Linked DNA regions of Homo sapiens. The protein of the gene in region 1 purifies or fractionates together with the protein of each later gene. This does not show direct contact. Each region holds a gene or a part of one and is shown in the gene's direction. Other genes may lie near its edges.

Region 1 (3,500 bases):
GTGGTCCTCTCCCCAGCCACCTCTGCCTCCCCTCACATACCTCCAGTGACAAGGAGCTCACTAGGTCAGCGAGCCCACAGCAGCTGTGCTGTCCTGCATCCCAGAGCCAGGCTTCCCCAGCTCTCCCTCTTAACACTGTCCCCCAGCAGGCCTCCGGCTGTCCCTCTAAAGGTGTGGGGCAGGTATCACTTCACCTTCCCACTGATGTCAGCCGGCCAGAAGTGAGCAGGCACATCACCTCTCCTGCTGTGGCACCCTTCCTCTGTTAATTTGGCCCAAAAGACAATGATTTGGCCACATGACCTTAGAGATTCACCCTGCCCTGCTGTAGCTAAATCCCTGGGCCCCACACGCAAGTGACAGCTAAGCCACATCTGTTTTCTGTGTATATGCAGGATGGGGGCACCTACTGTTTTGTTTTGTTTTGTTTTGTTTTGTTTTGTTTTGTTTTGTTTTGTTTTGTTTGAGACGGAGTTTCGCTCTTGTTGCCCAGGCTGGAGTGCAATGGCGCGATCTCGGCTCACCACAACCTCCGCCTCCCAGGTTCAAGTGATTCTGATGCCTCAGCCTCCCTAGTAGCTGAGATTACAGGCATGCGCCACCACACCCAGCTAATTTTGTATTTTTAGTAGCAACGGGGTTTCTCCATGTTGGTCAGGCTGGTCTCCAACCCCCGACCTCAGGTGATCCGCCTGCCTCGGCCTCCCAAAGTGCTGGGATTACAGGCGTGAGCCACCGCACCCAGTCTGCACTTACTGTTTAGACTGAATGAGGGACCGTGACCTCTTTCCTTTTCCATTCCTTCTTACTCGATTCATTCCAGCCTGTGGAATTTCTCTGCACCCTGATTCAGTGACCACTGCTCTCCTCTCTCCCAGCACATCTGCCCAGTGAGGAGTTGGCCCTGGGTCTCACCTGAGGTGTGTGGACCGGGCTGGCCTCTCCCTGTTTGACATTGGCCCATTAATGCATCCTCTTTGGGGGACACATTCCAATTGCATTTCCTGCCCCCTTCTCCCAGGGCAATTGCAGAAGATTGTGTCAGGCGCCCTGCTGGAAGTCAGGTGCACTAGATCCATCCCCAGCCCCAGTCTGCTCAACTCTATCCCTGTCAGAGCAAGGAGGCTGGGCTGCTGGGGCCTGACTGGTGAGCCCACCCTGTCCCCTGGTGATCACTGTGTCCCCTTGTTCAGGTGCTCACAACCCTACCTTTAACTCTGAGGTCAAGCCCTAGGCCACCACCCTAAAGTCTGCCTGGTCCAACCTTTGAGCAAGTAAGGATAATGAATGTCCCTTTTCCACCTTTGGGGCCCTCTGCCTGGATCTCTGGAATCCTCTAAGTTCAACCTGTTCTGTGGTTTTGCTCCCGTTTGCTGGGAAATTCAGTCCCCCCAGAATGTCCTGGGCCAACCTCCTTGCCTGACATGTGGCCTCGTGTCACCCATTGGGCCCCAGCAGCCAGCTAGCCCTTCTGCAGCTCTTCTTACAAACAGAGCCTCTCCAAGGACCTCAGTTGATGTTCTGGTCCTTCTGCCGCCTCAGCCCACCAGGGTCCGTGCCACCATGGGTCTCTTGAGCAGCAGCTGCACTGGCTTCTGGAGAGACACCCCTCTTTCTCCTTTTGCACATGCACCATCTGAATCGTGCCAGGGACATCCTGGGCAGATTCAGGGGCAGATGCCCTATCCCCCAGGAGACCTGGCCCTTCTCTCTCAGACCCAATAAGTTGGAAGGGACGTCAGAAGCGGTCATCTCATCTGCCCCTTATTTTATAGTTGGAAACCCTGAGGCAAGAGAGGGAAAGAGGCCTGTCCAAGGTCCGGGTTAGTGACAGAGCTGAGCTGAGAACAGGGACGTTGTGCCCCACTGTCCCCTGTGGTTTGTGAATGACCTCCAGGTCAGGGGGTCACAACTTGTTCTTAGTAAACTTGCCAGCTGTTGGGGTCACATATTCCCATTCTGGGGCCTCACAAACCCCCGAATCCAGCCGGGACCCCATGCCAGGAGCTGGTCTAGGGACAGCATGCTTGTGACCCACAGACTGTTAAAGCCAGAAGGGACCTCAGAGAGTCCCTTATGCTGGAGGCGCCCTGTCAGCCGTGGCTAGGGGCCCCTTGCTCTATGCTGTGCCTTGCTGCCCACAGGCTCCCAGACACCAGTGCCCACTCTGCCCAGCCCCGGACTGGGTGTGGCTCGCAGATGAACAAGATGCAGGGCCTGCCTTGAGGGGTGTCTCCTAGAAGGAAAGCCAGACTCTCCGGCCCAGCCAGAGAGTCCAGACATGGCAGGGACCCGTTTCTCAGATGAGGAGCCTGAGGCTCAGAGAAGGGAGGCGATGTGTTCAGGGCCACCCAGCAGAAGCCTGTGGGGCTGGGCAACCTTCTCCCACTTTATGGGAGGAGCTGCAGCCTTGGCTGGGAGCTGGGCGGGGAGTAGCCAGGACCACCCCTTGCCCGTGCCGTGACATGGAACCTTCATCACTAAGGGGGCTGGAGTGGGAAGAGGGAGATAACTGTGTGGTCTCCAGAGCAAAAGAGAATGAGAGGTGGGCAGGGGGAGTCTTGGCAAAAGACCAAGTTCCACTTCCCTGCTGGGGAAGTCAAGGCTCAGAAAGAGGAAATAATTGCCCCAGGTAACACAGGGCAGAGGAGGGACAAAAAGCTGGGCATGGCCCCAGCCAGAGCCTCATCTGCCTACTCCGTGAAGCCTCCCAGGTACTCTGCTATCCTGGGAAACGCACAGGGAGGCCACACAGAGACACTGCTCACAAGAGTCAGACCAAGGTGCCAGCACAGCCTGGAAAGAGCTCAGAAAGGGGGTTGGTGCACGTGGCTGGGCATCTTAGGAGGCTTCCTGAGGGTGGGTAAAGGTGGGAAGGCCCTGGCGCTGCATCAGATGAGCAGGGCCTGGCAGGGACAAGCCTCTTCTCCTTTGGGAAGCCCTGCAGCCTCCTAGCAAGAGGCTGATTCCCCACTCTGCCCCCATCTGAATGTCCTTTTCATGTTGCACGCAGGGAACCTCAGGAAGGAGGATTGCCTGATGCCTGCCTGGCTCCATCCTTGAGCTCTGGGCACCACCTAGGGTGAGGGAGAGCCTGCAGCTCTGGGGCTAAGTCTGCCCTGGGGGGAAAGGGCTCCACGCTCACACGCACGCGCTCGCACACACACACTCACACCTGGACGCACACGGAGGCTTGCGGACCCATACTCACAGGCACATGTGGCCTGGGGACTGGGGGAGCAGGAAAGACCCCTCCAACATTTGGCCCTTGGAAGGCACCATTGCCAATGAGCCTCTTTGCTGGTTCCCCCGACCCCACCTGGGGGTCCCATGGGAGCCCAGCCCAGCCAGGTGTGGGGATGGGCCACCGGCCATTCCTGTTTTCCTTGTACAGACAGATTCTCACTACCCACCCGCCATCCCCAGACACATTTTATTTAATAACTTGTCATTGTTAAATTATTTATTAGCGTTTACCACACCACCACCCCCACCCTGCC
Region 2 (7,472 bases), on another chromosome or scaffold:
TTTTAGAAACAAACAGCTGGACCAATTTATTTAAACAGATAGAGGGATGGGGAACTGACCTCAGTTTGACTTATAGTGGGAGGAGCAAGAATGTCATTTTATTACTTTGCCCAGAAGGAAAATGTTTTTGTATCTGAATTCACCCTGAAGCCATCTAAACATGGCTCTGCTGTGTGTAGCATAATTCCAAAGAGAGAGGATGTATAAAATAGTCTGGGATAATGATAAAATACACTAAAGAGAATCAAATGTGGAGATTGTTTAAGGTCGAAAAGGTGATGTTGTTTTAAAAATAAAATATTTTGCTATTTACTTTGTTGTTTTCACATAGATGTCCATCATGACCCCAAATAATTAGTTGTTCATATAAGTGTAGTAATTGTAATTCAGTAACGTTCTGAGAGATTACTACATCCTATATGTACTAATGATATTTCATTATATTGAATTTTTTAAATTAAATGTTTCACAAGTAAGAAGTTGCAGGTAGACCTACTAATGTGGTCAAACAGCTCAGAAAAGGTGATTAGTTTTTCTCAGGTTTTCAGTGTTTTTGTTTATGTTTTATTTTTTAATTAAAGGTTTCCCCCTTTGATATCTACACATTCTAGGGGTAGCTGACATCTGTGTTCTTAATAACAACAAACAGTTCTTGCCACCAAAAAGAAGCAAATAACATCTAGTACCTGTGGGCAGTTGGCTAAGAGGCTGTGGTATTTTTTGTGTGTATTTGCTTTCTACCTGGGGATCAGAGCAGGCCTGGAATAAATGTCGTTGGTGTTGTCCACTGCAAGGCTTCAGGAGGACATAGACAAAGATCAGCCTACTGAGCAGAGAGTGGTCCAGGTATTGAATGGACTCAATATCCTAGAAGGACTCACATTCTAGCAGGCACTTTTTAAGAATCACTAATGTTTAACCTAAGGATTAGAGGGGAGAAGGCTATAAAGCATAATGGCTATGTTTAACTATTTGAAGGGCTATCCTGTGGAAGTAAAATTAGAATTGCTTACAGTACCCCAAGGAGTTGTGCTGATAAAACTATTAGGTTGGGTGCAAAAGTAATTGTTTTTTTTTTTTTTAATTATACTTTAAGTTCTAGGGTACATGTGCACAACGTGCAGGTTTGTTACATATGTATACATGTGCCATGTTGGTGTGCTGCCCCCATTAACTCGTCATTTACATTAGGTATATCTCCTAATGCTATCCCTTCCCCCTCCCCCTGTAATTGTTGTTTTTGCCACTGAAAGTAATGGCAAGACCGCAATTACTTTTGCACCAACATAAATATTTTTGATCTAGTAAGGCAGAACCTTCTAACAGCCTTGTTTATAGATGGGGTGGCCTCTTAAGTAAGGTGGTGAGTGCTGTATTAGTTCAGCAGAGGTTACCTATGTACTTTTGGGGGACAGATATCATATAGGGGATTCATGTCAGTGACCAAACGAAGTGACCATTACAGCCCTTTTGAAACCTGAGGTGTAATTTTTAAAAATGAACTCACGACTTTAATAGTCATAGACTCAAACCTGAGTTGATTATTATGAATTAGTTTATGGGAGTCTCAATATGTGAATATGATGGAGACAAGTTTTGGAATACAGATAAATCAAGTCACTGTATTCACTCTCTCTCTCTCTCTTTGAATAGCCTTATCTTTGCCTATACACACAAACAGTGCAGCCATCAAAATTTTCAATTTACAAAATGTTCACAGTCATGCTTCTTCCTTGACTAAACACTGGGGTTGCTGCCAGTGGTAATTGGCTTGAAACCAGCTAATTTTTATATATCTATTTAGTCTGGATATTCTAGATGAGTGGCACTATAGTTGCGGTGCTCTAGTCACTGTGCCAGAGCACCAGGGAGGAGGGTGCTTGCTACCACTGACAGCTGTGTGTCATTTAGCAAATTATTAACATCTCTTTGGTAACATGTGACCTCAAAGAAGTCACCTAATTTCTCTGAGCCCAGGCTTCTCATCTGTTAAAAATGTCTCTTCCTATTTTTAGGTAAGTAGTATAAGTCACATCCATAAAAGATTATGTTTTTAAAAAGTCTGGAAAAAGAAAGTTAATAGACAGAATTCCTTCCCTCTAAGAGTCTGCAGATAATGAACAGTACCATAGATAAAGAGATGTTTTTGCTCTCTTACCTACATTAGTTACTATGAAAATTACTTTTGGTATATGCAGAATATTAATATTAAATAATTTTCTAATTGGTCATGCAGTGAAGGCAGCTAATGAAAAAACAGATTTTTTTTCATTTTAATTGGTTATTTCACATGGTGTTTGTGCTACACCTGTGCTTATAATGAGAATGGAGAATTAATCTAACCTTCTGCTCACATGATTCCAGTTTTCATGGTTTATACAAGATAATGATAACCTGATTTGCAACACAATTTGTTGTAGACCTGTGTTTTAAATATTTTTATTAGCAGTTCAGGGACTTCATATACAAGAACTGATATAATATGTATTGCCAACAAGAATTAGCACAAACAGTATACCTTTTAGTTAGATTCTAGTTTCATTATTTGTTTCAATTACTTCTCAGATAATGAAAGAACACAAGGATACAGGATATTGAGAATCTTAAAATGTTATGAAGTATGCATTTTTGTTTTGAAAACCTGTCCCTGTCTGTTTAATGGTTTGGTTTTTAGGAACTATTTTCCTTCCTGAAGTGGGCAGATTTACAAACTAGAATTCATACTGGACTATGGATCCTTTAATCATTAATAGAGCCTTATTAAACTTTTCATTGTATTTTTTATGTCCTGCTCAGATTTGATCTGAGTTGGGAACTAAAAGGAATTTACTATTTCAGAATCTAATATGTCCTCTTCATTTTCTGGATTTGATACGTAATTTTTAATATTATGCAGAACAAACGGATCTTAAGAGAATCTCATGCGTATGACTCTGGAGAGCGTATATTAATACTTTTTTACATGTCAGTGACTTGTCACTTTTGGAGAGGCTACAAAAATAATTGTACAAAACTATCTTATTAAGGCACTTAAAGTAACTTAAGTGCCTTAATAAGATGTTTATAAATTTTCAGTACTAGCTGGAGAAAGCAAAACTATAAGTTCAATTACTGTATATCTGTGACCTTGCCTTGACCTCAGACTTTACATAAAGAGCAAAAAAAAAAAAAACAACAACAACAAAAAAAGCCACCCCAAGAAATCTCTACAAGGAATGCATTTCTCTGAAGTCCTAAGCAGTGTGAGTTAGTGGTGATAAACTCCAGACATTCTCTCATTTGATGGTGTGCTGCCATCCCAGTTCATTATCTTAATAGTGGGCATTAAAATAGAATTAGGTTTGCAAGAGGTAGGGGTGGTTTTGATAAAAATTGTACAAAAGAAGTCAGAGAACATAAGATTGAAATGTCACTAATTAGGAGAGGTAACAGATGCCCTTATGAGCATCTAACTCTTTACACCAATTTTCTCTCTTTGCAAATGAAAGGAGTGGTGGCTAGTATTGTTTCCTGAAAACTCTGCTAATTCCCCCATGAAAAGATGAAATGGAAGTGTCCAACTGTGGTAAAACAGGCAAACATAAATCAACTCAGAAACCCCAAGCCTGTGTACTCAAAGGTCACTGGGGGTTACAGGTTTTCCAGCACGTGAGGCTGCACATAGAGCAATGGAGAGAACTGAAGGAGTCCCATTTTGCCAAGATCTAGTTTTACTCCAACTGCGATTCATCTTTTCCTCTTCCTCAACCCCCCCTTTTATTTTTAAGGAATAACGATTTGTTTCACTTTCTTGGTTACAGGTTTATTAATGCCCGGAGAAGAATAGTGCAGCCCATGATAGACCAGTCCAACCGAGCAGGCAAGTCCCCCATAGTGACTGTATTCAAGTCACGCAAGCGAAAACCATCCTCAAGCCATTCACCGGGAGGTCCGCTACCTGGTAAATAAACTGGGAGTGAGTATAGGAACGCCTGGCAATTAAAATTAAACCAGTTTCGTTTCATAACAACACTAATCAATTTAACATCATTATAAAACGTTTGGAGAAGGTGGAAAAAAAAAGCCAACAGAGAAAAGTAACTCTTAAATAATATGCTCAGTTACAATATTCTTTGTACACATTCAATATATTAATGTTATTTTTTTTCTGAGTTTGCCTTCCCAGCTCTTTCTGCTACTATGACCACTCCCTGGTGCATGGCTTGGTGTGGAATTGCTGTAAACTTTATTACCTGTCAAAAGGGCAAAGGGGTCAGGATTGCTTGTGGGACTCAGTAAAGTTCAAAGACATTCAATGAGGTAGAGCTTTTGTGTGCTTTAATAACCCAAGGCAGCTTACTTCTGAAGCAGCTTTTCATGTACAGTTAAAACACGGGATTCAGGTAGTGGTATAAATACATGGTTCTTATTTCTCAGACCTTCTCTTGTTAATATCCATCTTCTGGTGTTCGACTTTTTTTTTTTTTAATAACAGTCTTTTTGTTTTGTTTTTAAATTATGAGCTTAAAATGGCGATACTTCTATGGGATCCTGGCTTGTGGATCTAAAAATCCAAGAAACATCTCTCTAGGATTTGTTTTTGCATTATAATATGCCAGTAAGATAACAAGAGTATTTGCTAGGGGTGATGTGAGTCTTTACTTTCTTTATGAAATACTCTCTCATCTCTTAGGGAGCACTATGGAAAACTATGTTAGCATCGCATTGAGGCAACACACATTTACTCCTGTAACTTTTTTTCTTCCAACACCCATTATGTGGTCACCAGACAAAACCCAAGCAGAAAGTTTCCACACCTTAACTGTTCCCTCTTTGAGCTAGATGTTTTAAAAACTCAGTCACAGAGGTGTGTAGATCTAGTCTGAGAGAAATTTCACTTTGAATGTTTAAAAAATTATACTAGCCTGCTATGTTCTGTCTCTTTCTCTGGTATGTTCTCCTCTTAGTCTCTCTTGGGCTATTTCTTTTGCTCTCAGAGACTGTTATTAAAAAACCACATTCTGTACTTTTGTAGTAAGTCAAGGAACACCTTATAATCCTGATGGACAGCCCATGGGAGGTTTCGTAATGGACGGTCAGCAACATATGGGAATTAGAGCACCAGGTAAGACTTTGTTTTTGTGGTAGTTCCTCATTTTTGACTCCAAGAGTGTCATCCCCTCATCAACACAGGTAAATCCGCCTCATCCTTTTCTGTTATCTCAAGCTGGCTGCCTTGCCTTGTCTGCTATCTGTGCATCTAAGATATTGCAGAGGGGAAGCCAGGATCTTTATGCACTGAAGATCTCACTATTTCTCAACCCTCTAGATCCTGTTTTTTTTTTAAGGGTCTTTTGGCACTATCTGTTGACTTTGCTCATTTTCTGGCCTCTTCTTGGATTTTTATCTCCCTTCTAGGACCTATGAGTGGAATGGGCATGAATATGGGCATGGAGGGGCAGTGGCACTACATGTAACCTTCATCTAGTTAACCAATCGCAAAGCAAGGGGGAAGTAAGTACAAATGGGGTCTTTGTTTTCACTTTGTCCTAGGAATATTTTTCCTCTTGCATTTTCTTATGTTCTCCTTGCCCATAGCTTCATGCTTGTTCATTCCTTTCCATTAAACTCCTGGTTTCTTGCTTCCATCATTTTCTTTTTGGTTGTGATCAAGCTTTTAAGCTTATAAATACTGTGTATGATGTACATTTATCCTGTGTGTTGCTATTGTACAGTACTGACCACATGACAAAACAAGAAGCAGTCAGGAGGTGGGGGAGTGGGTTGTCATAGCAACAGACTGATTTGCAAAATGTAAGCAGTCTGCAGCAGTGCAAGGAGAGGGAAGAGCATGTCCCCAAAGTGTCATAAATCTGTCTAACCGCAGTTGATGCATGAGTTACATTTCTACACTAACCTGCAAGACACCGAAAAGCTAAACAGAGACTTCTTTTAGGTAAAATAAACACAAGCTTTACTTAGGGTAAGTAAAGGCATATTTTGAGCTCCAGTCAACTAAACTTTGATTTTTTTTCTTAGTTTATTCCTTTGTCTGTCCATCATAATGGGATTACGTGTGGCAATGGGAAAAGGGAGAATACAAAATAGAGGTGTGCACAGCAGGCTGCGGGGCTTAGCCCAGGCTAATTGACTATATCCAAATTAAGTATGCCATCACTTGCAGTGTGACAAATGGATTTGACTTATTCAGTATACAAAAATAGAGATCATTAATGCAATCATCAGTGGCAGGCCTAGTGAAGTGGGCCTAGGAAAACTGTCCCAGATTCTCACTCTTGCATTTTCTCTCCTATAAAGACACTCCAGCAATTCGAGTTCAAACAAGTAAAACTGTTTTGAACACCAAGGCTCTTGTTCACTTCCTAAATTACCCCTAATAGCACTGTTCTTGCTTTGTTTTTGAAATTAAAAGCAGTTATTTCAGAGTCTTGCTTGTGTCTCTGATTATATTTATGCACTATTTAAAATCACTGCTGAGGCCAGGGGTAATTCGTACTGGTCATCTTCTCTGGGTGTGAGTCAAATATAAGTTTAACAATTAGCTCTGAAAACATTCCATTGAGCTGGGGAATGCAACAGTCTTATTACCTCATCATGGAATTCTCTAGCTTAGTTAATTTAAATATTGTTTCTTAGTTTCTGGGTCAATTAAATTTAAATGATGTATTTTATGCTTCGTGACCAATTAAATTACTAGGTTATTACAAAAAAAATTATCATCTTTTTTGATTAAAGAGCTGTGGGTACAGTATATTTTATAAGCAATTTTCATTAGTTCAAAAATGTTCCTTTAGGCTAGATTAAGCAGCCATTCATTGTTAGAGCCTGGAGACCTTATTCGAAGGTGTTCATCGTATTCACAGTGCACTATTACTTAGAACTAAAGCCAATTGAACCTACTTAGCAATAGCGTTATGCCTTTCACCCTTGATGATTATGGAGCTTATAGCTCTCAGAAACAATACACCTGTCAGTTTCCATCAACTATAGCAATCCATGCAGAAGACAAGAGGCCCCCTCAAAGCAGGAGGGGTATTGTTTTAGGTCCAATTTTTCTTATTGTTCTCAAAATCATTATAAGGTGGACAGTGTTTTGTGAAGATTTTCTTTTCCCCAGCTCTAAGAAACCATGTGGAAAGAATTCATTGATAACTGTTTTGATTTTTTTCTTTTTTTAAGTACAGGTTTTGCTAAGTAATCACCCTTAGTGAGCCTGTGTAGTTCAGCTGCCTGTGAGATGTTTGGTGACCAGCTCAGTGTATTCTTGTATTCTTGATAGAGAATATTTCAGGAGACAAAAGTGCTTCTTCAGACCAGACCTCAAATAACAATTTTATTCTTTTTAATAAATAAGACCTCAGTAGGCGGACCTGATAACAGTGACAATGAAAGGAAAATAGTGGCAAAATGTGAGTTTCCAGCATGATGTTTCTCATTTTATTTTCTTCTGTATGAATCAAAAGAATGCTTTA
Region 3 (8,220 bases), on another chromosome or scaffold:
TCCATCTACAGGTGACAGGACCAGGGCCGTAGCCCTGCCCTTGACCCTCACCCAGACTTTGTTTTCTGTGTTCACCTGGGCTCATGGGTTACCTTCCAACAGAAAACCGGGCTCCGTCTCCCAGCCCATAAGCCTTCATGTTGGTTCTGCTAAGGAAAAGGTCTCCTCACTGGCTTGCTGAGATGCGCATGCAGGAAGAATTCCCTGGTGTTTCCTCTGAGTGTGCCCTGGGCAGGTGATGTTAGGGACACAGCAATGACCTAGTTCTTGTCTGCACAGGCTTCTGATATTCAGGGGGAGGCCAAATGTAGAATCTAGAGACCGAGCTACTCAGGCCCATGGGCTCATGACAATGTAGACACTGATGTTTCTGTCTCCTGATTGGACCCTGGATACAATTTATCTATCCATCCTTGTCCCAATGCCACAGTGTCTTTGGTTTTCTTTTTTTTTTTTCCTTTTATTTGTTTATTTATTTTTGAGATGGAGTCTCCCTCTGTTGCCCAGGCTGAAGTGCAATGGCGCAATCTCAGCTTACTGCAACCTCCATCTCCCAAATTCAAGCGATTCTCCTGCCTCAGCCTCCCAAGTAGCTGGGATTGCAGGCATCCGCAACCATGCCCGGCTAATTCTTATATTTTTAGTAGAGAAGGGGTTGGCCAGGCTGGTTTTGAACCCCTGACCTCAAGTGATTCTGCCCTCCTTGGCCTCCCAAGTGCTGAGATTACAGGCACAAGCCACTGCACCCAGCCCACAGTGTCTTTTTATACCTTTCAATAAGTCACAATATGTGGTAGTGTTTCCCAACTTTGTTCTTCAAGATTGTCTTGGTTATTCTTGGCCCATTATATACAAATTTTGGAATCGGTTTGTAGTTTCCACCCCAAAACTCTTATTTTTTTTTAATTGGGACTTTATTGAATCTAAAGATAAATTTGGGGTAAATCAATATATATTCAATATTTAGTCTTCCAATCCGTGAATGTGGCAAATACTTCCATTGTTTAGTCTTTCTTTAATTTCTCCCAATAATGTGAAGTTATTAATGTAGAGGACTCACATATCTTTTATTATATTTATTCCTAGGTATTTAATTTTTTCATACTATCCTATAGTAATCTTTTAAGTTTCATCTTTTAATTCTTTGTTGCTGGTATATAAATCATATTTAATATATGACCTTATATCTAATTTTTTGCTTGTATCTTACCTCCAGTAAAATGCTGAATGGAAAAGTTGATGGCAGAAATACTTGTGTTATTCTTAGTATTTTACTATGAAGTATAATTTAGCCCTAGGTGTTTTTGTTTGTTTGTTTGTTTTTTGTTTTTTTTTTGAGACAGGGTCTCACTCTGTTGCCCAGGCTGGAGTGCAATGGCGCAATCTCAGTTCACTGCAACCTTCGCCTCCTGGGTTCAAATGATTCTCCTGCCTCAGCCTCCCAAGTAGCTGGGACTACAGGCACCCACCATCACACCCGGCTAATTTTTGTATTTTTAGTAGAGATAGGGTTTCGCCATGTTACCCTAACTGGTCTCGAACTCCTGACTTCAGGTGATCCACCCGCCTCGGCCTTCCAAAGTGCTGGGATTACAGGTGTGAGCCACTGTACCCGGCCTGTCCTAGGTTTTTAATAGAAACACTTTATCTTCTTAGAAAATTTCCTTTTGTTCCTAGTTTGCCAAAAGTTTTGAGCCATAAATGAATGTTGAGTTTTATCAGATGCATTCTCTGTATCTACTGAGATAATAATATGGTTTTTCTCCTTTATTCTGTTAATGTGGTGAATTACATTAATTGATGTGCAAATATAACCCAAATTTGCCGTCCTGAAATAACCCAATTTGGTCTTTATATTTATCCTTGTGTAAAGAAAATCACTGGAATCAATTTGCAATATTTTCTTTGGGATAGTGTGTCTGTGTTGACAAAAGAGATTGACCTGAGGTTTTTCTTTGTTGTAATGTCCTTATAAGGTTTTGAGATAAGGTGATGCAAGTCTCATAGAAATCTTCCATCTTTTTCTATGTTGGGAAAAGTCTGGAAGATCATTTAATTTATTTATTTATTTATTTATTTATTTGAGGCAGTGTCTCTGTCACCCAGGCTGGAGTGCAGTGGCGCAATCTGCACTCACTGCAACCTCTGCCTCCTGGGTTCAAGCTATTCTTCTGCCTCGGCCACCTGAGTAGCTGGGATTACAGATGCCCGACACCATGCCTGGCTAATTTTTTGTATTTTTAGTAGAGATGGGGCTTCACCGTGTTGGCCAGGCTGGCCTCGAATTCCTGACCTCAAGTGATTCTCCCATCTTGGCCACCCAAAGTGCTGGCAAGTGCTGGCATTACAGGTGTGAGCCACCGCCTGAGAAGGTGTTTAGAAAAGGGGATGGAAGGAAAGGGAGCAACTGAGAAAAATATTTGTTGAAGATGTATTGAGTCATGCAGATGGCTGAGGGAAGAGACGGGGACCAGCATGTGCAATGGTTCTGGGGCAAGAGCCCCTCTGCCTGCCTGACAGATTCAGGGAACAGCGGGAGGCCAGCGTGGTTGGAGGGTAGGGAGTAGGGGGAAAGGTGCAGGAGGTCAGAACAGTAACCAGAGATAAATTTTTTTAAATTTTTATTATTTTTTTTGAGATGGAGTTTCACGCTTGTCACCCAGGCTGGAGTGCAGCGGTGCGATCTCGGCTCACTGCAACCTCCGTCTCCCAGGTTCAAGTGATTCTCCTGCCTCAGCCTCCTGAGTAGCTGGGATTACAGATGCCCGCCACCACACCCAGCTATTTAGTAGAGACGGGGTTTCACCACGTTGGCCAGGCTGGTCTTGAACTCCTGACCTCAGGTGATCCGCCCGCCTCAGCCTCCCAAAAGTGCTGGGATTACAGGCATGAGCCACCGAGCCCAGCCCGAGAGGATTTGTTTACTGCTTTATCCCCAGTGCTAAGAAGTGTGCCCAGAACATAGTAAGAGTTCAGGAAATATGTGTTGAGTGTTCACATGTGACACCTTCATGCTCTTATTTCATCCCTGGGAATGTAGTCTCACCCCTGGGAAAGGAAGCGGGGCAGGTAGTAGAGAAAACTCTGAATAGACAAATTAAGTTTGCTCCTTTCCCAGCAAAATGGAGGGCTTGGAATAGAAATTAAATATGGTCAGCGGGGCACAGTGGCTCACGCCTGTAATCCCAACACTTTGGGAGGCCAAGGTGGGAGGATGGCTTGAAGCCAGGAGTTCGAGACCAGCTTGGGCAACATAACAAGACCCCGTCTCTACAGAAAAAATTTTAAACTAGCTGGGCATGGTTAGCATGCACCTGAAGTCCCAGCTACTCAACAGGCTGAGGTGAGAGGATTACTTGATTCCAGGAGTTTGAGGCTGTAGTGAGCTGTGATTGCAGCACTGCCTTCCAGCCTGGGTAAAAGAGCGAGTCCTTGTCTGAAAAAAAAAAAAAAAAGAAAAACAGTGTTGTCAGCTTGTCACAAAACAAAAGGGGATGGTGACCTCACACACACATGTGGTAGCTGCAATTCATCCCACTGCCCAGGGCTGAGGCCAGAGTTCATGGGTGACCTCACAATGTTCGGGGTGGCACCAGCCCACTGCCACAGCCCCAGTCCACCATGCCACCCATGCTGTGGCTGCTGCTCCACTTTGCTGCCCCGGCACTGGGGTTCTACTTTTCCATCAGCTGCCCCAGTGGTAAGCAGTGCCAACAGGCCCTACTCTCAGGCAATGATATTCTCCTGTATTGCAACTCCTCGGGGGCGCACTGGTACTATTTATTCACACAAGGCAAGAAGGGCAGGCTCACCAGCCTCACCAATATTTCCAATATGGAAATAATGCCCGAGGGCAGCCTTCTCATTAAAGATCCATTGCCCTCCCAGACGGGCCTCTACCACTGCTGGAACAAGAATGGCCGCCAAGTGGTGCAGTATGAAATTGACTTTCAGGATGTCACCACCCTGCATATAACACACAAGGACCTGGGTCAGAGGCCCCTGCAGAACGAGACCCTGCATTTGGGCAGCAAACAGCTCATTTTTACCTGGTGGGAGCCCTGGCAGGACTGCAACCGCTGTGAGGAGCCGGGCGAGTGTAAACGCCTGGGGTACCGCTACATTGAGGAGCCTCTGGAGGAAGCCATGCCCTGCTGGCTCTATCTGGGAGAGGTGCTGGTGTGGTCTAGCCGCTTGCGGCCTGAGCTGCAGGTGGAAGCCTGCCACGTCCAGTGCACCAATAACACACAGTTAAGGGTGGATTACGTCATTTTTGACAACTTCAGGCTCGATGAGAAGACAGAATTTGTGTGGCTCGACTGTCCCTTAGGATCCATGTACAGGTGATGGAATCCCTGCCTCTGGCCCCTACCCAGATTCTTCCGGTCAGGGGATCCTTCCTGGTAATATGTGCAGAGGGATGAGTGGGCGTTCTTTGCAGTTCAGCCACGTAGTGGTCATCAGGACAGTGCCAGGCCCTGCTCTTAAACAGTCCGAGGGGGACACAGCCCAGGGTGGTGCGAGCCGGGATGGGAGAAGCCCAGGCAGACAGATGGGGCTGTGATGGGGGAAGCCCAGGAAGCTTAGGGGCTCCAACAGGCCCCTGCTTCATCTGGAAAGGTCAGTGAGACCTTGGAGGAGAGGCTGGTGCCCCCGGGGCTTCCCATCAAGGCCTGCCTCCCAGAACTCACACTCATCTTCTTACTTCCTGCCAGGAGCCTCTGGAAAATAGCCCCTTCCCCTCCTCTCCCCCAGTCCACCTGCCCCTTAATAAGAAATGCAGGCTGGGCGCGGTGGCTCATGCCTGTAATCCCAGCACTTTGGGAGGCCGAGGTGGGTGGATCACCTGAGGTCAGGAGTTCGAGACCAGCCTGGCCAACATGGTGAAACCCCGTCTCTACTAGAAATACAAAAATTAGCCAGGTATGGTGGCACGTGCCTGTAATCCCAGCTACTCAGGAGGCTGACGCAGGAGAATCACTTGAACCCGGGAGGCGGAGGTTGCAGTGAGCCGAGATCACACCACTGCACTCCAGCCTGGGCAACATCACGAGACAACTCTGACTCAAAAAACAAAAAAACAAAAAAACCCCAGAAATCCATTGTCTCACCCTTCTGGAGGCCGTAAGTCTGAAATCAAGGTGTCAGTAGAACCACGCTCCCTCTCAGTCCCTCTGAGTGAGCTGGGCAGAATCCTCCTTTTTTCTAGCTTCTGGATGCAGTCAGAGATCCCGGTCTTCTCTGGCTTGTGGCTGCTTCTCTCCAATGCCCGCCTCCATCATCACTTGGCATTCTTCCTGGGTGTCTGTGTCCCTGTCTCTCTTTTCCTTTTCTTAAAAGGACACCGGTCAGATGGGATTGAGGGCCCACCTTATTCCAATATGCTCTCATCTCAACTGATTATATCTGCAATGATCCAATTTCCAAATAATGTTACATTCTGAGGTTCTGGGAAGGACATGCATTTTGCGGGGGCCACTGTCTAACTCAGTGCAGAGGTCTTGCCAGCCCCTGGCCACACAGGGTCATTGTGATGTGTTAAGGGGACTAAAGACTGTAGAGTGCCTGCCATAGCATCCAATAAGAAGTTCCACAATGTACCTAGCTGGGAATGCAAGCTTTTATGATATTGTCTGTGGAATATCCTCTCTGTTCTTCCACCACGCTGGGTGTGTCGGTGCCTGATTCATTTCTCCACTAAACACGTGTTCACTGCATATTTATATGCCAAGCTCCATTCTAGGGACCTGGGAAACAGTGAAGAACACAACCAACGGAGATTCTTGCCCTTGTGGCGCATAAATATATAGTTTTATTATTATTATTGTTATTATTATTAGAGACAGGGTCTTGCTCTTTCACCCTGGCTGGAGTACAGTGGCACAATCACAGCTCACTGCAGCCTCAATTCCCCGGGCTCAGGTGATTCTCCCATCTCAGCCTCCACAGTAGCTGGGACTACAGACATGCACTACCACACCCGGCTAAGTTTTTAAGTTTTGTAGAGATGAGGTCTCACTTTGTTGCCCAGGCTGAGCCCAAACTCCTGGGCTCAAGTGATCCTCCCACATCGGCCTCCCAAAGTGCTGGGATTACAAACCTGAGCCACTGTGCCCGACCTATAGTATTTTGGATGGTGACGGAGCAGGAAGGGATGCTGGGAATAGGGGAGGTTAAAAGTGTCAAGTGGTGGGGTCAGGGAAGGCTCCTCTGAGAAGCTGCCATTTCAGCCCAGACTGAAAGGAGGCGAGGAAGCCCTGGGGACAGAGGGAACAGCCAGGGCCAAGACTGCACCCAGCATGTCAGAGGAACATCTAGGAGAGCAGCGTGGCTAGGCAGAGTGAGTAAAGGGGAGAGTGAAGGAGATGAGACCAGACAGGCAAAGGCAGGTGGACAAATCATTTAAGGAGTGCCCTTGCTAACTCCTCCAAATAACCTTATGAGGTACAATCATTACTCTCCATTTTTTTTGGTTTGTTGTTTTCTTTTTTGGGACAGGGTCTTGCTCTGTCACCCAGGCTGGAGTGCAGTGCTGTGACTGGCTCACTGCAGCCTCAACCTCCTGGGCTCAAGTAATCCTCCCACCTCAGCCTCCTGAGCAGCCAGGACCACAGGCGCATGTCAGCATGTCCAGCTAATTTTTTAAATTTTTGCAGACATGGGTTCTTGCTTTGTTGTCCAGGCTGGTTCTGAACTCCTGGGCTCAAGCCATCCTCCTTGCCTTTGCCTCTGAAAGTGTTGGGATTACAGGTGTGAGCCACCAAGCCTGGTCTAGACTCTTAGTTTTACATAAAGAAATGGAAGTTCAAAGAGCTGGAGGCATTTGCCCAGGTCACCCAGCCAGTAAGGGGTGGGGCCAGTAAGGGGTGGAGCCAGGAAGAGGGGAGCCAGTAAGGGGTGGGGCCAGTAACGGGTGGAGCCCTGGGAGCCCCCAGCTGTGCCTCCTCCACCCCACTGTTGACGGCTGCACAGTGCTCCGTGGGGGGTGGCGAGGAGGGGGACTGGGCGGTGCTTTATTTTCTGTTCCTCAGGGAGACGTCGGTCCCTCCTTTCTCCCTGGCCCTGCACCTGACCTTGTCCTCCTCGCAGGCCCGTCAACTGGCGTGCCAACGACACCCCCCTGACGTGGGAGAGCCAGCTCTCCGGCCAGGACTTCACCACCTTTCTGGACCCCTCCACCGGCGGCAGGCAGCTGCAGGTTTTCCAGCCGGCCGTCTACAAGTGCTTCGTGCAGCAGGAGCTCGTGGCCCAGTTCAAACCCGCCGCCAGTCTGGAGACGCTGGAGGCTCAGTGGAGAGAGAACGATGCCCAGTGGCGGGAGGCAAGGAAGGCCCTGCGGGGCAGGGCGGACTCCGTGCTCAAGGGGCTGAAGCTGGTGCTGCTCGTGGTCACCGTCCTGGCCCTGCTGGGGGCGCTGCTCAAGTGCATCCACCCTTCCCCGGGCAGGAGAAGCACACAGGTGCTGGTGGTGAAATAAAGCGAGCCCCCGGTGCACAAGCGGACCCGGCCTCCGGTTCTCTCTTAGCCACAGCCGCCCCTTCTGTCACTTCCGCCCCGGTGCCCCGTAGCCCAGGGTGACCGAGCTCTTCCCTGGGTCAGGTGCTGCTCTGTTAACTCATTAGTAATTTCCATAGAACAGATGAGGAAACTGAGGCTGGTGATTCTAGTTCAAACCAGGTTGCCTGTCCCAAGCCCTGTGTTCTTCAGAAGGAGGGAGAGATGGAACCAGGCCATTCTTGGGGTGTCTCCCTAAAGGTGGTAACTCATAGCCTCCTCACTCATCCCATTCCCCCAACTACAAGATGGGGGATATGAGCAGGACACCTCTAGGCTCCCCAGATCTGCCCTGGGCCCTGCTGTCTTTTCCTGCCCATCCCTTGCCCACCCTCCCCACTGTGCCCAGGCCTTCAGGCCCAGCCACCACTCCCCAAGTCAGAGGCACTGCCAGACACGCGCCACTTTTCCAGGCTCTTGTGGTGGAGTGAGGCCCCTCAGGCCCTTGGAAGGGGAGACAGGCCCTTTTGCTGGTACAAGGTGCCAGGCCTGGCTCAGCTGACCTGCAGGAATCACCAGGCCTGACTGTTCCCAGAAATCACACACTGTTCAGCAGAGTGCAAGAGTGAAAAATAATTCATGCCATTAAAATTCATTGCCCTAATAGTGCAGTGAAGCCATGACTGGACAGAGATGAAACTCTCCCAGAACAGAACCTCTGCCCCC
Region 4 (7,899 bases), on another chromosome or scaffold:
AAAATTGCTATTGGTTATTTTAATTGATTTAATGAGAAGCTTTTTTTTCTTCTAAAAAATTAAGGCATGTTCTCTTCTTCCTCAAAAGAGAACAACAATAGTAAAAAAAAAAAAAAAAGAAAAAAAAAGAAAAGAAAAAATGGCTGTTGCTTCATAGGATATTACAAAACAATGAAAATATCAACTAACCACACAGAAGAGTATCACTGCTACACTCACCTTGCTCTGAGCCCATTCTTTCCTATGAAGTATTGCTCATGGAGGTAGTTGTTTTTTCAGAGTCTCATAATAGTAAATATGTCTAAAGCATTAGAGTGAACTAATCCTATTTCTATGCCTAAAATAGTGCTATCATCCTATCAAGTAAACATGAATCAAATAGAAAAGATTTCATAAGTTATAAAGGCAATTTTTTTTAGAGATGTCATCTGATTTAGAAGGCCAACATTGTAATTTTAATACTGGGATATAAAGAAAAATCACTGGGGCTGAGACATTAGAATTACCCCACTAGTTATTGAGGAGGTCAGAATTTACTTTGTCATTATAAGCATTCTAGGTTACTGAATGAGAGACTGGTGTACTTCAGTCAAAAAGCTTAACAATTTCCCTTTTATGTGTTTGATATGTGAATACAAAGTGACTAACATTTACTCCCTGGCCTCAAGAAGGTCCTTACAACTCTTGACTTTCTGAAAACCACTTTGAGACAACATCTGGTCAGCTCCTCAGTGTGACAGAGCTCAATGCCAAGTTGCAACACAGAAAGAACAGGAAGGCCTGCTGCCATTCATTCACTACAGTGAAGGTACATGCTTTTTAGGAAGGGCTTACATTTAAAAGTAAATTACTGAGAGGTATTTTTCTAAGTAAAATTCACCCTTAAACATCTCTTATGGAATTATCTGGTGCCTCTTGGGCCAGTTTTTCCACCATGATTTGAACAGATCATTGTTTCATTGGCTGACTACCCAGGTTACACTTAGAAACTTTGAAAAACATGTATCTTTAAACAATGTATGCACATTTGGAAACATGGTTTTGTTTTGTGCTTTTTAAAAGACAGAAAAGGGATCACGCTGTACTTATACATCTCATTTATATCCCCCACACATCAAGGTGTTTAGGAGGTTTTCAATGTATCTGTAGCAAGTTATACATTCTGAAAATGGCCACAGCAATATTTCTGGTCCCATATGCTCTTTGAGAACCTTGCCTCTCTCCACCAAGAGTAGAGTCTATTTCCCCTCCTGTCAAAACTGGATATAATTTTGTGTCTGCCTAGATACAATGCAGCAGAACTGACACTACATAACTTGTTTTTTGTTTCTTTTTGATGAGAGGGAGTCTCCCTGTGTTGCCCAGGCTGGAGTGCAGTGGCGCAATCTCGGCTTACTGCAACCTCCGCCTCCCGGGTTCAAGTGATTCTCCTCAGCCTCCTGAGTAGCTGGGACTACAGGCATGAGCTACCACGCCCGGCTAATTTTTGTATTTTTCGGCAGAGATGAGGTTTCACTGTGTTGGCCAGGCTGGTCTCGAACTCCTGGCCTCAAGAGATCCTCCCGCCTGGGCCTCCCAAAATGCCAGGATTACAGGCGTGAGGCACCGCACCTGGCTAGAGACTACATGACTTCTAAGGCTAGGTTATAATGGGTAATATGCTTCTGATTGACTTTCTCGCACGATACTTGCCGTGGAACCCAGCCACCAGGCTGTGACAAAGCCCAAACCAATCAATGCTAAAAGACCACCGGGAGAGGTCTACATGGACTAGAACTGAGGCCTCCAGCCTTTATCCTGCATCAACCATCAGCGGTGAAAGTGAAGTTTTCAAATAATTCTACTCCTCAGCCTTAGAGTCTTCCAACTGAAGCTCTACGCATAATGGAGTAGAGAAAAGCCATCCCAGTTGTGCTCTGTCTGGATTTCAGAGGCACAGAATCTGCGAGCATAATAAATACTTTATACATAGAGTTTAGATTACGGCAAAAAGTTGCAAACGTGTTCCGTCATAGAATTATATATTGAAAACGTCCATCTGCGGCACACCAGACCAGCTCTATAAATCAGGTTTTTAACAAAACCGAATTTGTTCAGTGAGCGGGTGAGTTACACTACCTGTCTCAGCTCAGACCTGCCGGGAGTCAATTGTGGACTAGAGCAGAAGGCGCCCAGCCACAAGCTCAAGTTCTATCCCCTTTGCACTCGATAGGCAGATCCCCTGGGAGGATCAGGCCACCTGTTTACCAGTGCTTCCTAACCTATTTGTGTCACAAGTTTAGGAGTGTGCTTCTTAGCCCTGGTCACTCTCTTTCACCACCTCTCTCTAACCCTTCCCCAGGTGTGCTAGCAATTGCCCAACACCTGTCAGTCACTTTTGCCTCCAATTTTACTGGGTGCGAGGAGCAGAGTAAGGAGGGAGAGGAAGAGGGCTGACTCCCTTGCCTCAAAGTGGCAAGGGCCAGCTGAACTTAATTCACACTGCAAACCACCACGTTTCGACAGCCATCCCCATATTTTCACAGCTCAAATCTTCCTTTCTTTTTCGGTCGGCTTCTCTGATTTGCTCCATTTTTAATCGCTCCTCCCCCATCCTCCTTGCCCCTGGTCAGGGCAAACATTAAACGCTGTGCAGCTTTAAAAGGGCATTTTTAGGTGACTTGTAAACGGCTTGTTCCACAGGCCCCGAATTGGCGAGATTCGCTACAGCTCGGAGTGCGCGGTAGACTTTAAGCAGGGAGCGCCTGCCCGGTCCATCCCTCCCCGGCCCCGCGTGGCAAGCACCGCAGGTTGAGGCGCCCCCAAACCGAGGAAGAGGGTTTGGGAGCCTGTGACTCCAAAGCCCTCTGCAACTTCCCGGCCCCACAGCCCCACCCACTAGCACGCGGCCTTCCCCGCAGCCCGCAGGAGACACCTTTGTCCCCGCCCCTCCACAGGTCACCTCCCTCCACGCCCCTCTCTCTTGGCCCGGGCAGCCGGCAGGCAGGGAAGTGTCGTAAAGCCAGGCCCAGGAAACTTTACCCGGCCTAACAGCTGAGGCGCTTTACGGCGACGGCGGCTGAGTGAGAACCTTGGCGGCTGTGGAGGCTGCCGCGGCTGCGAAGGAGGCGGCGGCGGTGGCGGAGGAAGAGGAGTGGCGGCAGCGGCGGCGGGGACCCGTGCGGGGTGAGCCGTGAGGAGGGGCCGCGAGTGACAGGGCTGGCGGGTGGGCCCGGGCGGACGGGGACGGTGGCCGGCTGAGCAGCTGGGCGGCGCTGAAGAGCGGGGGGGTGGCGGGGAATTGGGGGGCAGCTCCGTGAGGGACGGTTTCTGCCTTTGTTCCCCCCACCTCGGCCGCCCCCCATCCGTCGCCCCCTGTTCTCCGCGCTCCTCGGCCGGGTTTCATGGCCTCCCCTCTCGGTCTGTGTCGCTTCTAGGATGGCGGAGGTACCGCCTGGGCCTAGCAGCCTCCTCCCACCACCAGCACCTCCGGCCCCGGCGGCGGTCGAGCCCCGCTGTCCCTTCCCGGCGGGGGCCGCCCTCGCCTGCTGCAGCGAGGACGAGGAGGACGACGAAGAGCACGAAGGCGGCGGCAGCAGGAGCCCGGCGGGCGGAGAGTCGGCGACGGTGGCGGCCAAGGGGCATCCGTGCCTCCGCTGCCCTCAGCCGCCGCAGGAGCAGCAGCAGCTCAACGGATTGATTAGCCCCGAACTGCGGCACCTCCGGGCGGCCGCCTCCCTCAAGAGCAAGGTCCTGAGCGTAGCAGAGGTGGCCGCGACCACAGCCACCCCTGACGGAGGCCCCAGAGCGACTGCAACAAAAGGAGCCGGGGTACACTCGGGCGAGAGGCCCCCTCACTCCCTCTCTAGTAATGCAAGAACTGCGGTCCCCAGCCCGGTGGAGGCAGCGGCGGCGAGCGATCCCGCGGCGGCCCGCAATGGACTGGCCGAGGGCACCGAGCAGGAGGAGGAGGAGGAAGACGAGCAGGTGCGGCTGCTGTCTTCGTCCCTGACCGCCGACTGCAGCTTAAGAAGCCCTTCGGGCAGGGAGGTTGAGCCTGGGGAGGATCGGACGATACGATATGTCCGATATGAATCCGAGCTACAAATGCCCGATATCATGAGACTGATCACCAAAGATCTGTCCGAACCCTACTCCATTTATACCTATAGATATTTTATCCACAACTGGCCACAGCTGTGCTTCTTGGTAAGTGGATAGAATAAAAAGAGGGTGAACCCAGCAGTGATCGAGACTGTGCGGGGCAGGGAGTGAGGGCCCAGAATGTGGCAGTGGATATCTCCTGCTGCGTATCATAGTACGTTATATGATGTCAAGTGCTGTACACATTCCTAGTTATTTAATGAAATTGTTTTGAAGGTAAGACTTCATGATTCGGGTTAACGTGATACTAGTGTAACTGCAGCAAGCCTGTATGGTGGCGTGTTTCACTGGGGTGGGGGTCTTGTGTCTTGTTTACATTAGATTATAATCGTGTTTAACCGTCTTTAATTACCCGCCCGCATCCTCAAACACTTTACAGTCATTTAATTTGAACATGGTTCTGTTCAGATACAGGCCTTATTAGTCTCTCGATTACAACCATAATCAGGGAAGAGTGTATGCATAAACATGTTGTGGTGAACATGGATGTCAGCAAACTTGGTGTGGTCATATTGGAGAATTAAATCTTACAAGCATTTTCGGTAATTATGGAGATGTTTCTCTTTACTTCAACTGGACAATTAACAGTTGTAGCCAGCCTGCTTTCTGGTACTCCATTCCAGAAAGCGCTACTAACACTTCTGGTGGCTGAAAGACTCCTGAAACTTGAACAAAATACCCTTTTGTGGAATGTAGAAAACTTGTGTGAAATTGTTACCGATCTGATTTTTTTTTTTTTAATTTAAGAAACTGGTTGTAGATGTGGCCAAACACTAGTAACACTGGCTTGTGTAGAGTATAATTGACAATAATATTACACGTAAGTGAAAGACTTTTGGACGGTTTTTAAAAATTAACATAGTATTGGCAGTACCAGTAATTTCTTCACAATAATATTGACCCATTTCAGTCTGTATGAACCCTTTAACTTAAACGTTGACTGCAGGTGTATGCTTTGTATCATGTGCTCACAAGCATATTGTTTCTGTTGAATTTTACTACAGAAAGATGACATCCTTTTAAGGAATATTTTTTAATATGTGAAGGGAAAAGCCACCATTACTTAATGTTTTAGCATTGGCTTAGTTTCACTTGGTAATTCCCTGCAAGATATTTTGACAATACTTATCTTTTTGATTCTCTAGCTTGGTGATAATTTGAAAATGTAACCTGGGTATTGTAGATAATGGTAGTTCTATTTTCTGTCTTAACTTGCTTAAACTTCAATTCAGTACATTTGTTAAAACTGTGGGTACTACTTTATATTCTTGAAAACTGCTCTTTCAGTATTCTAAGCATTGTATCAGAATAGTTCTAAGACATGTCTGTGTCAATGAATATGAGAAAATGATTTATAGCACTATTATAAATGTCATATCAAATGCCACTGTAATTGCTAAAAATTGTAGATTTAGTTGTAAGTTAACCCACAGAAGTAGATGATTGAGTCACATTTCAAGTTGAAATAGATGTTTTTCTGTCAATTCCAGGAAATAGTTGTGTATATGATATTTAGTCAACTTTGAGTCCTGATAGTTACCTAAGCCTCTCTCAACTTGTTTGCTATTTTAGACTCTGGTCAACAATATTAGTAAACTTTAGATTTGATTTTATGTAGAACCCTCCCAATTCACCAGCTAATGTGTATGTTAGCCTTTAGTAGCTCAAGTTTGTTTAATATTCTGAGTATCTAGAATTGCGATATGCACAAGTGGTTGACCTATAAGATTTACTGGTGCAAGTATGAATCAGGAGGTATTAAACAATAATAAAACAGTAAAAAAACAACCAGGCCATTTAAAACTGAAGCCTTTATCTTGGCATACTTTTAAATTTAAGTTTCCCATAGGAACTATTTTTTTAAAAATACAGATGCGTAAATGTCTGTTTATTTTAAATCATATCCTTTTAGAACTGAAAGCCATCCTAGAGATAATCTAGCCCAACTTAGGTTTTGTTCTGTTTTGTTTTTTGATTGAAAAAAAGTTAAGAACCAAAGTGACTTAAAATGTTTCAATCTCCAGATATTTACTGACAGAGGGGTAGGTTTTGTTTTGTTTTTTGATTGAAAAGAAGTTAAGAACCAAAGTGACTTAAAATGTTTCAATCTCCAGATATTTACCGTCGGAAGGGTAAAGCTAGAACCCAGTTCTCCTGGCCTCTCATTATGGTAACAAACAAGAACCTGAAAAATGACATACCCTTGATCCATTCAGTGAAGATTATTGTGTCACCAAGTTATCTTCACCAAGGGACAGTTGCCCTTACATCAATCTCAAGAGATTAAAAACCTCCAAAATGTTCCGTTTTCCGTGGATAACCTGTAATGGGTCAATGGAGTATATGGGGTTGAACCTTACAAAATTGCCAATACTTGATTAATAAAAATGATAGCTTATTATGATTCTTCCTAATTGTAAAAGATGTAAAAAAAAAAAAAAAAAAGGACAAATGTGAGACACTTTCAGTTACTCTGTACTTAACCATTTTATCTTTACCTGTTTTCATAGTAACATTTTCAGTTGTTGGTATCTTTTTGAAGTTCTTAAACTTACTCTCAGCAAATGTAACATAGTACTTCCATTTATTTGTTCTAAATTTAACTTTTTGGCTTCCTCCAGTTTTCTATTTGTAGTGTTCTAGAATTTGGGAATCTCTCACTTTATTTTTTTCATAGTTTTATAGACTGACAACCCTTTGGCCTTGTAGTGTTAAGTCTTAATCTTGCCGGGGATTTTTCAGTTCCCATCCTTGAAAAAATACATTTAATAGCGTGAATTCCAAATGTATATGCAGAGCTTTTATTTGGAAAAATTGACAAGCAATTTAGTGATTCCTGTAAATGTACCACATATTCATGAGTAGTTTATCAGGAAAAAAAAATGCAGCATTGGTCTTCACTACTAATGTCATCGTAATGGTGTATGATATATTGGGCTTTTTAGATGATGTATACAGCTTGATTTTTGCTCCTATAGATTCTAAATTAGGAAGAAATCAGGTCTTAAGAATGAACTAATTTAATATTTTGTTTGCTTATTCCATGCTCAAAGGACAAAGATTTGTTTGAAATTCCTGTTCAGATTGAAAGTACTGTCCAGTTGTATTGTGTTTAATGGTTTTAATTTTTCCTCATTTTTGGATAGTTTTATATAAGGTGTAGCTATTCTGAGGTTTGTATCATCAATCTAATACAGGTTTTCATTTCACCTGAGCCTGGCTTATGAGGTCAGGCCAAAATTTTTTCTGGCCCTTTTAAATATACCATTTGGTCTGTGATAATTTTATGTATGTGTATGTATTTATACGTGTCTGTATATACGCACATATATTTGAAGTGAGTTTCAAATCAGAAAAAGCTTTCAGAGTTGGTCGAGGCGATTTTTGTGCATACTTCAGGTCTTTGTTTAAAAAATTTTTTTAAAAGATTGATGTATTGTGAGGGAAAAAATTAGAAATAACAATTTCAGAGGTTTATTGACCCAAAATAGTTTTGGAATGTGTGATAAACCAGAAATGAATTAGCGTGGGTTGTTGAATTTCATATTCCTTCAAAAGGATTTTTCCGACCTAGTTTAGGTTTGCATGAAATGGATTAGAATTATCTTGCTGAAAAGATTTCTCCACAGTTAAAAAAAGGCCTTTTAATCAATTTACAGAATGACAGACTAAAAAAGTCACAAATTTAAAATATGTATTAATTATAAATTGGACATTACTTATTAGTTTTTTGACTCATTTCTGCTTTTGTTGAAA

What was found.
Region 2: the proteins of LMX1B (region 1) and MEIS1 purify together in Homo sapiens (affinity purification with mass spectrometry; 3 studies listed by BioGRID and IntAct, with this or other methods). This does not show direct contact.
Region 3: the proteins of LMX1B (region 1) and FAM187B purify together in Homo sapiens (co-immunoprecipitation; one large-scale study listed by IntAct). This does not show direct contact.
Region 4: the proteins of LMX1B (region 1) and NAA30 purify together in Homo sapiens (co-immunoprecipitation; one large-scale study listed by IntAct). This does not show direct contact.

What each region holds. Positions count from the first base shown.
Region 1 is NC_000009.12:126,697,428-126,700,927, forward strand, and holds part of LMX1B (LIM homeobox transcription factor 1-beta), read left to right. Parts: 3' UTR 1-3,500. UniProt on the Homo sapiens protein: Transcription factor involved in the regulation of podocyte-expressed genes. Essential for the specification of dorsal limb fate at both the zeugopodal and autopodal levels.
Region 2 is NC_000002.12:66,563,653-66,571,124, forward strand, and holds part of MEIS1 (homeobox protein Meis1), read left to right. Parts: intron 1-3,800; coding exon 3,801-3,859; intron 3,860-5,014; coding exon 5,015-5,104; intron 5,105-5,397; coding exon 5,398-5,456; 3' UTR 5,457-5,493; intron 5,494-7,472. UniProt on the Homo sapiens protein: Acts as a transcriptional regulator of PAX6. Acts as a transcriptional activator of PF4 in complex with PBX1 or PBX2. Required for hematopoiesis, megakaryocyte lineage development and vascular patterning.
Region 3 is NC_000019.10:35,224,082-35,232,301, reverse strand, and holds FAM187B (protein FAM187B precursor), read left to right. Parts: upstream 1-3,562; 5' UTR 3,563-3,621; coding exon 3,622-4,343; intron 4,344-7,089; coding exon 7,090-7,477; 3' UTR 7,478-7,502; downstream 7,503-8,220.
Region 4 is NC_000014.9:57,387,541-57,395,439, forward strand, and holds the start of NAA30 (N-alpha-acetyltransferase 30), read left to right. Parts: upstream 1-3,045; 5' UTR 3,046-3,165; intron 3,166-3,416; 5' UTR 3,417-3,417; coding exon 3,418-4,188; intron 4,189-7,899. UniProt on the Homo sapiens protein: Catalytic subunit of the N-terminal acetyltransferase C (NatC) complex. Catalyzes acetylation of the N-terminal methionine residues of peptides beginning with Met-Leu-Ala and Met-Leu-Gly.